2 linked regions of the Homo sapiens genome follow. The protein of the gene in region 1 interacts with the protein of each later gene in a pairwise test. Each region holds a gene or a part of one and is shown on either strand. Other genes may lie near its edges.

Region 1 (7,169 bases):
CCTCTCACAGTGCTGGGATTACAGGTGTAGGCCGCTGTGCCCAGCTGAGTTCACTTTTTAACATCTGTCTGAGGCGGTCATGAGACACTGTAGTGGAGCCATCTGGGTTGCATAATGAATGTGCTGTGAGATGCACAAGTAGATAGTTCTTTCCAGAAGCTTTGCTGTGAGAGAGAAACAGCAGTTACGGAGAAGGCTCCTGAGCGGGTCTATAGTTATTTATGTTGGAACAATTCTCAGGTGATATGTGTGTGTGATCTGAATTCTTCAATCACTTGTTACCCATAATACTGTAAGTTTCCCAGCAAGTTCTTTCCAGTTGGATTTGGTAGTTTGAAAAGAGGTCCTACTGATGGCTTCCGAAACATAATTTTAATTTTAGACTAGAATTTGCTGCCTCCTGAATATAGATTGTGTCTTTTGCCTTTTCAATAAATGGTAGTAGCTAGAATTCGGTTATTTAACTACTAACACAATCTTTCTTCTTAAAGAATGGATGACAAAGGAGAAGTGAAGTGCATTAAGTTTTCCTTAGAAAATAAGATATTGGCTGTTCAGAGGACCTCAAAGACTGTGGTAAGACTTATCTTTAAAATACAGCATTAAAGGGCATTAGAAATACATTTGGAAGAGAAGGAATCGCAAATTTTCAGTGTTAAAGGAAACTTTTATTATCTTACTGTTGTGAAAGGTATAGTTATGTTGCATTGTATTAGAGCCTTCAAAAACGAAAAAGACATTTGAGTGGGTTAAAAAAATGACCTTAGTTTGATTTTTAAATTAAATTAAAAATTTTTTTTTGAGCCAGTCTTCCTTTGTTGCCCAGGCTGGAGTGCAGTGATGTGATCTCGGCTCACTGCAGCCTCGATCTCTCAGGCTCAAGTGATTCTCTCGCCTCAGTCTCCCTTAAAAATTGTTAAAAAATAATTTGGAACTTCATGTGTCTTTTGTATTGCTTGATAGCAGCATAGAATATGTGAGGTATTTTTGGCTACTTTGTGAATTAGCCTTTTCATCTCTCATTTCTGAGTGCTAGATCTGATAGGAGCAGATATTCCAAGTTGAAGCAGCCTACAGGCACTTTAGCCCGTGTAAATGTTCACCATTGCCGTTTGTAGAGTAGAGGGAAGGCTGTTAGAAACAGGCAGAATCCTCTGTTAGTTTCTTCCATCAGTTTTAAGTGTTAAAGTCTTGGGGAAGCCTCTTAGTGCAGCAACACATTTCTCTGACATCAGCTGCTTGAGGAATGAATTTTTGAAAGGAGTTACTAAACTGTAACTGAATATTTGTATTAACTTAAAAAAAATTGAATCGTAAGCCTGCTGCTGTTGAGACAGATGATCCGAATTGGTCTTTTTATCTTTCCTGTGTTTTGGTTGTCTTCAGTTATTTTCTGGTCACTTTTTAAGTTAATATTTATTTTTCTTGTCTTGTAGTATGCCAACGTAGGTTGGCAGTATGCTGCCTAATCCAAATTTGTGTGTGTCTGTGTGTTTTTCCTTTCAGGATTTTTGTAATTTTATCCCTGATAATTCCCAGCTGGAATACACACAGGAGTGCAAGGTATGACCCCAGGCCCTTTCTCAGCTGCTGGTGTCAGTGGTGTTGAGCTGGGTTATGTAGTGGAGAGCGGGGCATTGGGGTCGCAGGGAGCACAGACTTGAAGTCAGACTGTCCCTCATGTTGATTCCCAAACTGGAGTCAGGCGGGGTGTTTGCTTTGTGACACTGAACAGTTTTCTAAGTTTGAAAGCTTGTTCCTTTGGAGGGGGAGGGTTCAATGGATGATGCGTGGTGAACACCCAGTAGTGCTAGCCCTTGGGGCTGTCGTCTGTCTTGCCCTTTTTCTCCTCACTGGGCTGACAGCACATCTGGGTCTGGGCCCTGGGATGCCTCACAGCCACCTGGAGTGGAGGTTTCTGGTGAGGAGTTTCTTTTTCTGTTTCCTGAAGTTTCCTTTCCTCAATTTGTTGTCTTTGTCTTGTCCTTACTCTTTCTTTCTTCTCCTAGGTGTTGATTCTAATCCACATTAATGAGATTTGCTGGGTGTAGTAAACTAGGCTAGAGGGAGCTGAGCTAAAATTGGCAGTGTGGCACCTTGGGCGCTGACAGAAGCTGCTAGTGGTTGGGGTAGGGCTTTCTGCATTTTTGTGACTGTTTTGCTCAATGGAGTTCAGGGCGGACTCTTTGGTGAGGAGAGGTGCATCCCCACCACTGTCCTGCCTGCCCTGCAGTGGCCCCGTGTGAAGAGACCCTCAGCCCGGCCCTTCTCAAACCTGTCTGCCCTCAAGCGAGTCGGGTGTGTGTCTCAGGGTCCTCAACCCATTTTAGTCAACACTCACTAAAGACCCTTAGGCCTTTGTACATTTTTAATAACCATTTTTATAACGTGGGTGACTAAGAATGTTGGCAGTATGGTGATTCCTGCAGGTAGAAGCTGCTGTCTGTGAGCTCTGGTCAGTTACTTTTCTACAAAACACAGACTTCTCCTGTTCTGTTTAGTAGAAGGAATTAGGATTCAGGTTCTTGAATGAAGAGTTATGGGCAAAAATCAGGGAACATTGTATTTAAAAGAAAATTTGTTTTGTTAATTAGTAAACATTCCGGGGAACGTTCATTAAAGAATGACAAACTGCAGAGTTTGTGAAGCTTTTGAAGAGAGTTATATGTGTTTTTTCTTATTAATTAAAAATATTTTTAAAAAATTTTTCTTAGACTAAGAATGCCAACATTCTAGGATTCTGCTGGACTAGTTCAACTGAAATTGTCTTCATAACAGATCAAGGAATCGAATTTTACCAGGTATTATGTTTATCATTTATGTTTGTTGGTTAAAGTTCAGTGATAGCATTCTGGCAGCCTTTTGAATTCAGTACTGAATATATATATATATATTTTAAACATTTTCTAGAGATGGAGTCTTGCTCTGTTGCCCAGGCTGCAGTGCAGTGGCACCATCATGGCTCACTGTAATCTCAAACTCCTGGGCTCAAGCAATCCTCCTGCCTCAGTCTCCTGAGTAGGTGGGACTACAGGCATGTACCACCATGCCTGGCTAATTTTTCTTTTTATTATTTTATTTTATTTTATTTTATTTTTGAGACGGAGTTTCGCTCTTGTTGCCCAGGCTGGTGGAGTGCAATGGCGCGATCTCGGCTCACCGCAACCTCCGCCTCCCAGGTTCAAGCGATTCTCCTGTCTCAGCCTCGTGAGTAGATGGGATTACAGGCATGCATCACCATGCCCGGGTAATTTTGTATTTTTAGTAGAGACGGGATTTCTCCATGTTGAGACTGGTCTCGAACTCCCGACCTCAGGTGATCCACCCGCCTCGGCCTCCCAAAGTGCTGGGATTACAGGCGTGAGCCACTGCGCCCGGCCCTGGCTAATTTTTAAACTTTTTTGTAGAGACGAAGTCTTGCTATGTTGCCCAGGCTGGTGTCAAACTCCTAACCTCAACTCCTGCCTTGGCCACTCAGCTTTAGTCTCTTGCTGGGGATTTTATTCTTTTTTTTTTTTTTTATAATTGCAAGTAATAAATTAAAAAAAAAAAAAAGAAAAGAAAAAGGGCTTGGTGGCCCATGCCTGTAATTCCAGCTCTTTGGAAGGCCAAGGTGGGTGGATGGCTTGAGTCCAGGAGTCTGAGACCAGCCAGGCCAACATGATGAAATCCCATCTCTATAAAAAATACAAAATGTTAGTCAGGCATGGTGGTGTGCGCCTGTAGTCCCAGCTACTTGGGAGGCTGAAGTGGGAGGATTGCTTGAGCCTGGGAGGCAGGAGGTTGCAGTGAGCCAAGATCACAGCACTGCACTCCAGCCTGGATGACAGTGAGACCCCATCTCAAAAAAAAAAACAAAAACACAACAACATTAAAAAGTGGGCAAAGGCCAGGTACAGTGGCTCACACCTGTAATCCCAGCACTTTGGGAGACCGAGGTGGGCAGATCACCTGAGGTCAGGAGTTCGAGACCAGCATGGCCAACATGACGAAACCCTGTCTCTATTAAAAATACAAAAATTAGCCAGGTTGGTGGCAGGCACCTGTAATCCCAGCTACTAGGGAGGCTGAGGCCAGGGAATTGCTTGAACCTGGAAGGCGGAGCTTGTAGTGAGCTGAGATGGTGCCACTGCACTCCAGCCTGGGCAACAGAGCGAGACTCCGTCTCAAAAAAAAAAAAGTGGGCAAAGGACATGAGCAGACACTTTTTAAAAGAAGACACACATGCGACCAACAAACATAAAAGAGCTCAACATCACTGATCATTAGAGAAATGCAAATCAAAACCACAATGAGAAACTATCTCACACTAGTCAGCATAGCCATTATAAAAAAGTCAAAGAATAACAGATACTGGCAAGGTTGTGGAGAAAAGGGAACCCTTATGCACTATTGCTGGGAGTGTAAATTAGTTCAACCTTTGTGGAAAACAGTATGGCGATTCCTCAGAGAGCTAAAAGCAGAACTACTGTTTGACCTAGCAGCCCCATTACTGGGTGTAATATGCAGAGGAATATAAATTATTCTACCATAAAGGCACATGCACGTGAATGTTCATTGCAGCACTGTTCACAATGGCAAAGACATGGAATCATCCTAAATGCCCATCAGTGACAGATTGGATAAAGAAAATGTGGTACATATATACCATGGAATACTATGCAGCCATAAAAATGAACAAGATCATGTCTTTTGTGGGAACATGGATGGAGCTGGAGGCCATCATCCTTAGCAAACTAACACAGGAACAGAAAACCAAATACCACATGATCTCACTTCTAAGTGGGAGCTAAATGTAAGTTATGAATGCAAAGAAGGAAACAACAGACACGGGGGGCTACTTGAGCAGGGGAGGGTGGGAGGAGGGAGAGGAGCAGAAAAGATAACTATTGGGTACTGGACTTAATACCTGGGTGATGAAATAATCTGTACCACAAACCCCGTGACATGAGTTTACGTATGTAACAAACCTTCACATCTATCCCTGAACCTAAAAGTTAAAACAAAAAACATTCAAACATTGCAAGATATGTAATATGGAAAGCAAATGTTCCCTATAATCCCGATAAATAATTATTATGAACAGTTTGGTGCATATTCCTCTATTTTTAAAAATAAATACAAACTTCTTTTTAACAAAAAGGGGAATGTTGTATATAAACTTTTGCAGCTAGCTTTTTTTTTTTTTGTCCAAAGTGTATCTTGGACATCTTTCTATATTTTATTCTGACTGGGTAGTATTCCACTGTATGGATGGACTGCAGTTTAAAAATTTTCTTGTTATTGGACATTGGCTGGTTTTCCATTTTTTTGTGATTACAAATAACCCTTCAGTAACATGCTTGTACACACTTCTTTATATTAGAGGGAGAGTTGCAGTATAGGTACGAACATCTGAAAAGCTGAACCAGTATCGCCAAATTTCTTCTAGACATGTGTATTTTCACTAGCAATATAGGAACTTCTGCTTTTCATACCTTTAGGAGGACTGGATATTATCAGTCTATAGACATTTGCCAACCTGAGAGGTAGAAAGACTTTTTTTTTTTTTTTTTTTTCTGAGACAGAGTCTCACTCCGTCGCCCAGGCTGGAGTGCAATGGTGCGATCTCGGCTCACGGCAACCTCCACCTCCTGGGTTCAAGCAATTCTCCTGCCTCAGCCTCCCAAGTAGCTGGGTCTACAGGCGCCCAGCACCACGCCTGGCTAATTTTTGTATTTTTAGAAGAGGTGGGGTTTCACCATGTTGGCCAGGCTGGTCTTGAACCCCTGGCCTCAAATAATCCACCTATCTCGGCCCCCTAAAGTGCTGGGATTACAGGCGTGAGCCACCATGCCTGGCCGAAAGACATTTTAATTTGCATTTTACATTACTAGGGAAGTAAGCATCTTTTCATTTGTATATTGTCCATTTGTATTTTGTTAACTTCCTCTTAAAATTTTTTTATTTTGTAATAATTATTTTGAGACAGGATCTCTGTCACCCAGGCTGGAGTACAGTGGCACAATCACGGCTCACTGCAGCCTCGACCTCCTAGCCTCACGTAGTCCTCCCACCTCAGCTTCCTGAGTAGCTGGAACTACAGGTGTGTGCCAGCACGCCCAACTTAATTTTTTTTTCCTTTTTTTTTTTTTGTAGAGATGAGGTCTTGCTGTGTTGCCTAGACTGGTCTTGAACTCCTAGGTTCAAGCCATTCTTCTGCCTTGGCCTCCCAGAGTGCTGGGATTTATGGGCATGAGCCACTGTGTGTGGTCAAAAATATTTTTTTTACTGTGGTAAAAAAACATACAACATTTATTATCTTAACTGTTTTTAAGTGTTCAGTTCAGTAGTGTTAAGTATATTCATTCACATTGTTATGAAATAGCTCCAGAACTTTTTTCATCTTGTGAAACCAAAACTATCCAGTAAACAACTCCCCTTATCCCTTCCCTGCAGCCCCAGCAATCTCTATTTTACTTTCTGTTTCTATGAATTTGACTCCTTTTTTTTTAAGATGGAGTCTTGCTCTGTTGCCCAGGCTGGAGTGCAGTGGCGTGATCTCAGCTCACTGCAACCTCTGTCTCCTGGGTTCAGGCGATTCTCCTGTCTCAGCTTCCTGAATAGCTGGGATTACAGGTGTGCGCCACCACGCCTGGCTAATTTTTGTATTTTTGGTAGAGATGGGATTTCACCATGTTGGCCAAGCTGGTCTTGAACTCCTGACTTCAGGTGATCCACTCACCTCAGCCTCCCAAAGTGCTGGGATTACAGGCGTGAGCCACTGTGTCCGGCCGAATTTGATTACCTTTTATACTTCATATAAGTGAAATTATACAGTATTTGTCCCTTTGTGACTGGCTTATTTCATCTACCATAATTTCCTACAGGTTCCCCCATGCCATAGCATGTGATAGGGTTTCCTTTTTAAGACTGATAATACCGCACTGAGCGTATACACCACATTTTGCTTATCCATTCATCTGTTGAGGGACATTTGGGTTGCTTCTGCCTCTTGGCCATTGTGAATAGTGCTGCTGTCAATACAGGTATGCAGATACCGCTTCAAGATCCCGTTTTCAGTTCTTTTAGATTTATACCCAGAGTGAGATTGCTGGAGCAGATGGTAGTTCTGTTTCTGAATATTTTAGGGAACCGCTATACTGTTTTCCATAGCAGTTACACCATTT
Region 2 (5,628 bases), on another chromosome or scaffold:
TGTGGATGATCAACTTGGGTAATATTTTTGTTACTCGCCACCTTTCAGCACCTACCTCTTAAATGATGGGTCCGTCTGGTTCAGCATCTCTGTCCCCAGCCCTCCTGAGCTCGGCCTGCCAGTGCTCTGGCTTTGCCGCGGTTTCCCGCTGCCATGGTGATGCGGGGGCCGGCCACAAGCCCCGCCCGACTCCAGCCAGCCAGAGCCAGCCCCTGCCGGCCTTGGTCCCGCCTCTGGCCCGCCGGATCCCGCCTCCTGCAGGCCCAGACCGCGCCCCCTGGACCCAGATCCCCCCCAACTGCCGTTCCGGATCCGCCTCACCAGGAGCATCCGACAAACAACCAATCACGGCATGGACACACCGCCCCAGGAACTGCGCCCTCTGCCAATGGTAGCCCGCCCCCTTTCTCCTAAACCCCACCCCCCTCCAGCTCCGCCTCCAGCCGCGGCCTGGGGGTGGGGCCGGAAGGCCTGTCTACTGGCTGGACTTTCGAACCGCCCTTAAAACTGGGCGGGATCCGCTGTCCTCGCAAGGAGCTTCGGGGCCCCGCCCCAGAAAACGCGCCAGGCATGTTTCTCAGGCCGTTTATTGATCCTAGCGGCCCCGCACCTGCGAGAGCCAACAGTCCCTCCGAGGGAAGTTTCCAGGCCTCACTGTGCTGTCGGTTATCACTGACTTGAGGTCCTGAAAGCGTTTCCTCCACGCCTCAGCCCCCTTCCCCCATTTGTCTGTTAAGGTCTGGAACCTGACTCAGCCACTGAGGAAATGGCCCAAGCCAGCCCTAGTGTCTGAATGTAAAAGCTCAGAATGCTTTTCCGGAGCACCTCCCCTTCAGCTTTGGAGTTTAAGGTGTGTGAAAAAGGATACCATTAATTAAAGTCCAACAAGATCAGCCCACGTGCTTATGGGCTAACTTTTTACCTGCTCTTTCTGCACTTTGCAAGAGCAGGAGCAACAATGGTGGGGTCGAAGACCTACCTCCCTGCACACTCCACCTAACCTCATGTGGATAGCTAAGTTTAGCTATCCACCCATAGCTAAACCAACTATTAACTCCAACCTAACAGTGGCAAGTAAGAGGCCAGGGGAGAAAATGGGACGCCCACAATTCCAGGGGCTTTGGAGTTCTTTAAGCTTAAAACGTGGACAACATCCCTGGGTTGCCACCCAATTCCCCAAAGCAGTAGGTTCTCCCCCACAGGTGTAGTGGTTAACGATGGACTGGGCCTTCCTCCCAAGCGCTCACACCAGGGTCCCGTTCTTGCTGTCATAGCGAGGTGTGGCCTGGGGGAAGCGAAGGGTCGCATACTCTGTAGCGTTTTCTAAATGCACGTGTTTCACTTCCCGGGCATGGGGACGGCTGCACACTTGAATGTCAGCATAATGTAAGTTGCTGTCTTCCGACATGAGGCCTGGACTCCTCTCTTGAGACCCTTGCTGCTGTAACACCCGTTCATACGTATGTCCTGTTGTTTCATGGCCCTGCGAGGAATGGATAGCATTAAGGGAGATTCATGGCTTGGTTTTGCCCCTCACCTCCAATGCAGGGGCAGGTCAACTGATGTCCCTTCGCTTTGCTCCTTTGAGCAAAGGACAGACAGAGGAGGACAGACAGAGCCAGCAAATTCTACAGGTGACTGAAATGTGTCTGTTGCAGTGCAAAAGAGCTGACTACTGGGATCCCATGTCCGAGCAGCCCCAGAGAGGGGACAGAGACCTGTCATTACCTTTGGGAGATTCTGCTGCAGCTGTTGTGGCTGCGGCTTCAGTGTCCGTCTTGTTTGGCTTCCTGAGGGGAAGAAATCCAACTTAAGTTTATTCTCTCTTCCCTGTCTCTACTGAGATTGCCTTCTTCAAATCACTATTAAACTATTAACGGCAGGCTTCTGTCTAATCCCCCTGCCTCCATTCTCACTTCTTTCATGTCTACTAGTGCTAAATCCAAACTCCTTAGCAGGGTTTACAATCTGGCCCTTTCACAATCTGGCCATAATATCTTCCATCCTCATTTTTCACTAGCCCCTAACAAGTTCAACAAGAGAACCCATTGTGTGCCAGGCTCTGTGCCATGTTCTGGGGGTAGAAGGATGAGTAAGCTGTTTCCTCTACCTCAGGGGGCTTACAGCCTGCTAGGGGAGACAAATAAATAAAAATAAGTAAACACACTTACAATGCAAGGTGGGAAGTGCTCAGCTATACCAATCAGCCACTTTGAATCAGGTCAGTCTCTTTTTTTTTTTTTCATGAGCTGATTTATCTGCCTAAAACACCTTCTCCCTCCTCTGCTGACTTGTGAACTTTGCTTTTATTTATTTATTTAGAGACAGAGTCTCACTCTTGCCTAGGCTGGAGTGCAGTGGCGCGATCTCGACTCACTGCAACCTCCATCTCCTGGGTTCAAGCAATTCTCGTGCCTTGGCCTCCCAAGTAGCTGGTACTACAGGCGCATACCACTATGCCCAGCTAGTTTTTCTCTTTTTAGTAGAGATGGGGTTTCACCATGTTGACCAGGCTGGTCCCAAACTCCTGATCTCAAGTGATCCGCCCCACCTTGGCCTCCCAAAGTGCTGGGATTACAGACGTGAGGCACTACGCCTGGCCCTTTGCTATTATTTCTTTGACATTTCGACATCAGTGTCTTCTCTCAATTCTCCCACAGCATGAGTACACATCTATTACAGCACCAGTGATGATATTACAACTGTTTGTTTATATGAATTTATCTCTTAAATTTGATTTTCAGCTCTTCCAGGGCTGAGATCATGTGTCTTTCCTCTTGTGCCTCTCTGCCTCCTTGGGACCCACACAGGTCCTGACGTAGAATGTAAGTGCTGAGTAAATATTTGCTAGATGAATGAAAGAATGAACAACCAACCCTGCCACTCTGAAATAATGGAAAGGATAAGATCCAGAGGTTCAGAACTAGTCTTGAATGCAGCAACCTGGATTCTCTTTGGTGTGCTGTCTCCCTTTATCCTTTCATTCCTTTTCTACCCTTCTGCCCTTTCCAAAGATTGGAGTTCTATTGTCTTCTCTAATTTGCCTCCCCCAGATTCCCTCCCCCAGCCCCAAAGTTACCTGTTTTCTTTTTCTTCTGGAAAGTTGATGGGCAGCTCCTGTAATAGGAAAAACAGATCACCCATGTGCAAGAGCCCTGGCCTCTGCCTTCCCTCCATCATCATTTGCTCTGTGGTCTCCTTAACATTCTGATGAGCTTCCCCTACCTCCCTCTAACAAAGATTCACCCTGAGCCAGGTTCAGTCCCAAAACATTAGTCAAGGGTACCACACCTCTCCCACATGGATGGTTCTGGAAGGTGGAGTAGTACAACTGACATAACCAGACCCAAAATACAGCCTCAGGCAACCAGGCACTACATGCCAGGGATGTATCTGGCTTGAGAGCTATTCTGGGATTGTCTAACAGGCTAATCCCAGCAGAGGGTGAGGGAAATCTGTCAAATGATGGAATATTCTTGGATCCAGAGACCCTCTTGCCTCTTCTTCAGTGCTTTTTTTTTTCCTGGGGTCTTTACCAATCTGGGACTTTTATTCTGGGAGTCATGGAAGTTGCCACAACCAGGGCTAACTAATTACAGCCCCTCAAGGCCCTTTCTTAACAAGTGACCTCCCTCCCTGCTTCCTTGTCCTTGTTTTTAATTAACAGAGAAAGTGAGAGATGTTTAACCTTTAACATCCTTTAGAGAACTTTGTCTACAGAACAGGGAGCACTGAATTTGGTGAGTGACTCAGCTATCCTGCCCTCACTGTAGGGCAGACCTCTTATATTTATTTCTGAGCCCCTGGGGTCCCCAATGGCGCCCGTGTGTCTACGTGATTGTTAACTGTTTGATGCCAGAGAGACAACACTGACTGAGGAAATAGGCTAAATAGTTTGGGGCTTACTCCGGATTCTTTTTCTTGCTTTCTTGCTAGTACATTTCCAACTCTTGCCAGAACCAACCCTGTTTGTCTGCCTGATCTCTCATCTCCTGGGAGGTTTCCTTCTTTGCTAATTTGAGAGGGCGAGAGAGAGAAGACTGACTTCTAAATCATGAGGACTACTGTGGGGAAAAAGTCAGGATTTTTCCACACATATTTGACAGAGGTTTCTGTTTTGATGTGATTTTTGGTTTTGCTACAGCTTGCTCAGTTGACAGCAGTTGAGTCTCCAGCCAAACTCTACAGGTGGTTCAGAAGAAAAACTACTCCTGTGTTTTTCTACTTCTTCTGCCACTTCAGCTCTTGCTTTATGTTACTGCTGCTCAGTCAGCCTTATCCTAAGAACGAGATAATCTTCTAATTCTTTGCCACTTGTTACTACTCTTTACCTACTTATTTTTATTTAAATGGATACAGAAAATATTAGTCCTAAAATACATAGACTAGGGCTATCCAGTGTTAGTGAACAGAGCCTGTTCTCAAGTTAGATATTGTGCAATGCCTGGACACAACCCAAATGGAGTGAGTATTCATTTAGATACACAGGCGATGGGATTTTATTTTTAGATTTAAGGAAACTAAGTGGGCATTCTTCTACAGTGGTAATAGAAATAAAAATCTGTGCAATCCTCCTAGAATGCAATTGGCAATAAGTATAAAAATCCTTAAACATAAATGTGTATACCCTCTGATGTAGCAATTCCATATCCTAAGAAATAATTATACATGTACAAATATGGATATTCATTATAACATTATTTAAATTGCAAAAAATAGGAAATACTCTGAAGGTCCATGATTTGGTAACTGACTAAAGAAATGGCATATGCAATTAATGGAAAATATGTAGCCACTTCATAAAGAATGTTGGAAGAACACCGAACATCATGGAAAATTTTACTTTTTATTAAGTTAGTAAAAAGGTATGTTTTGGAATAAAAACTGTGCACATTTAAAAAATATATGGAAATACACTAAAATGTTCCCATCATCTCTGGGTGCTTTATTTATGGTGCTTTTTATTTTCTGCTCGTTGCAGAAGTTAAATTTTCTGCAATGAATGATTATTACCTTTGTAATCAGAAACAATAACAATAAAGAATATTTTAAAATAAAAATATCTTCAATTGCCATAATATCTTTAAGCCTCTGGAGGTTTATTGAGATAACAAAAAATAGAGAACAAAGTTTTATTCAATCCTACTAGTATTTGAAGAGGAAAAAAAGATTTTGGTTAGACTATTTGGTATAGTGTCTCTAGAATGGGCTCTAGAGTCAGACTGATGAGGTCAGAATAGCTGTGAGAACTTCAGCAAATTTTTAACTTCTCTGGGCTTCTGTTTTCTTATTAATAAAATGAGGTATGATAGGCCAGGTGCGGTGGCTCACGCCTGTAATGCCAACACTTTGGGAAGCCAAGGTGAGTGGATCATTTGAGGTCAGGAGTTCAAGACCAGCCTGGCCAACAGGTGAAACCCCGTCTCTGCTAAAAATACAAAAATTAGCTGGGCGTGGTGGCACGCACCTGTAATGCCAGCTACTAGGGAGACTGAGGCATGAGAATCGCTTACACCTGGGAGGCTAAGGTTGCAGCGAGCCAAGATTGTGCCACTGCACTCCATACTGGGAGATAAAGCAAAACTCTGTTTCAAAAAAAAAAAATGAGTATGATAATATAATTCAGAC

What was found.
Region 2: the proteins of RMC1 (region 1) and C11orf52 interact in binary tests that used the Homo sapiens proteins (3 or more experiments, as listed by UniProt).

What each region holds. Positions count from the first base shown.
Region 1 is NC_000018.10:23,506,479-23,513,647, forward strand, and holds part of RMC1 (regulator of MON1-CCZ1 complex), read left to right. Parts: exon of another isoform or gene 1-57; coding exon of another isoform or gene 58-164; intron 165-491; coding exon 492-576; intron 577-1,506; coding exon 1,507-1,563; intron 1,564-2,714; coding exon 2,715-2,801; intron 2,802-7,169. Other genes in the region: NPC1 (NPC intracellular cholesterol transporter 1), read right to left, coding at 58-164. UniProt on the Homo sapiens protein: Component of the CCZ1-MON1 RAB7A guanine exchange factor (GEF). Acts as a positive regulator of CCZ1-MON1A/B function necessary for endosomal/autophagic flux and efficient RAB7A localization.
Region 2 is NC_000011.10:111,921,815-111,927,442, reverse strand, and holds the end of C11orf52 (uncharacterized protein C11orf52), read right to left. Parts: intron 3,741-5,628; exon of another isoform or gene 3,703-3,740; intron 3,118-3,702; coding exon 3,080-3,117; intron 1,791-3,079; coding exon 1,729-1,790; intron 1,484-1,728; coding exon 1,244-1,483; 3' UTR 572-1,243; downstream 1-571.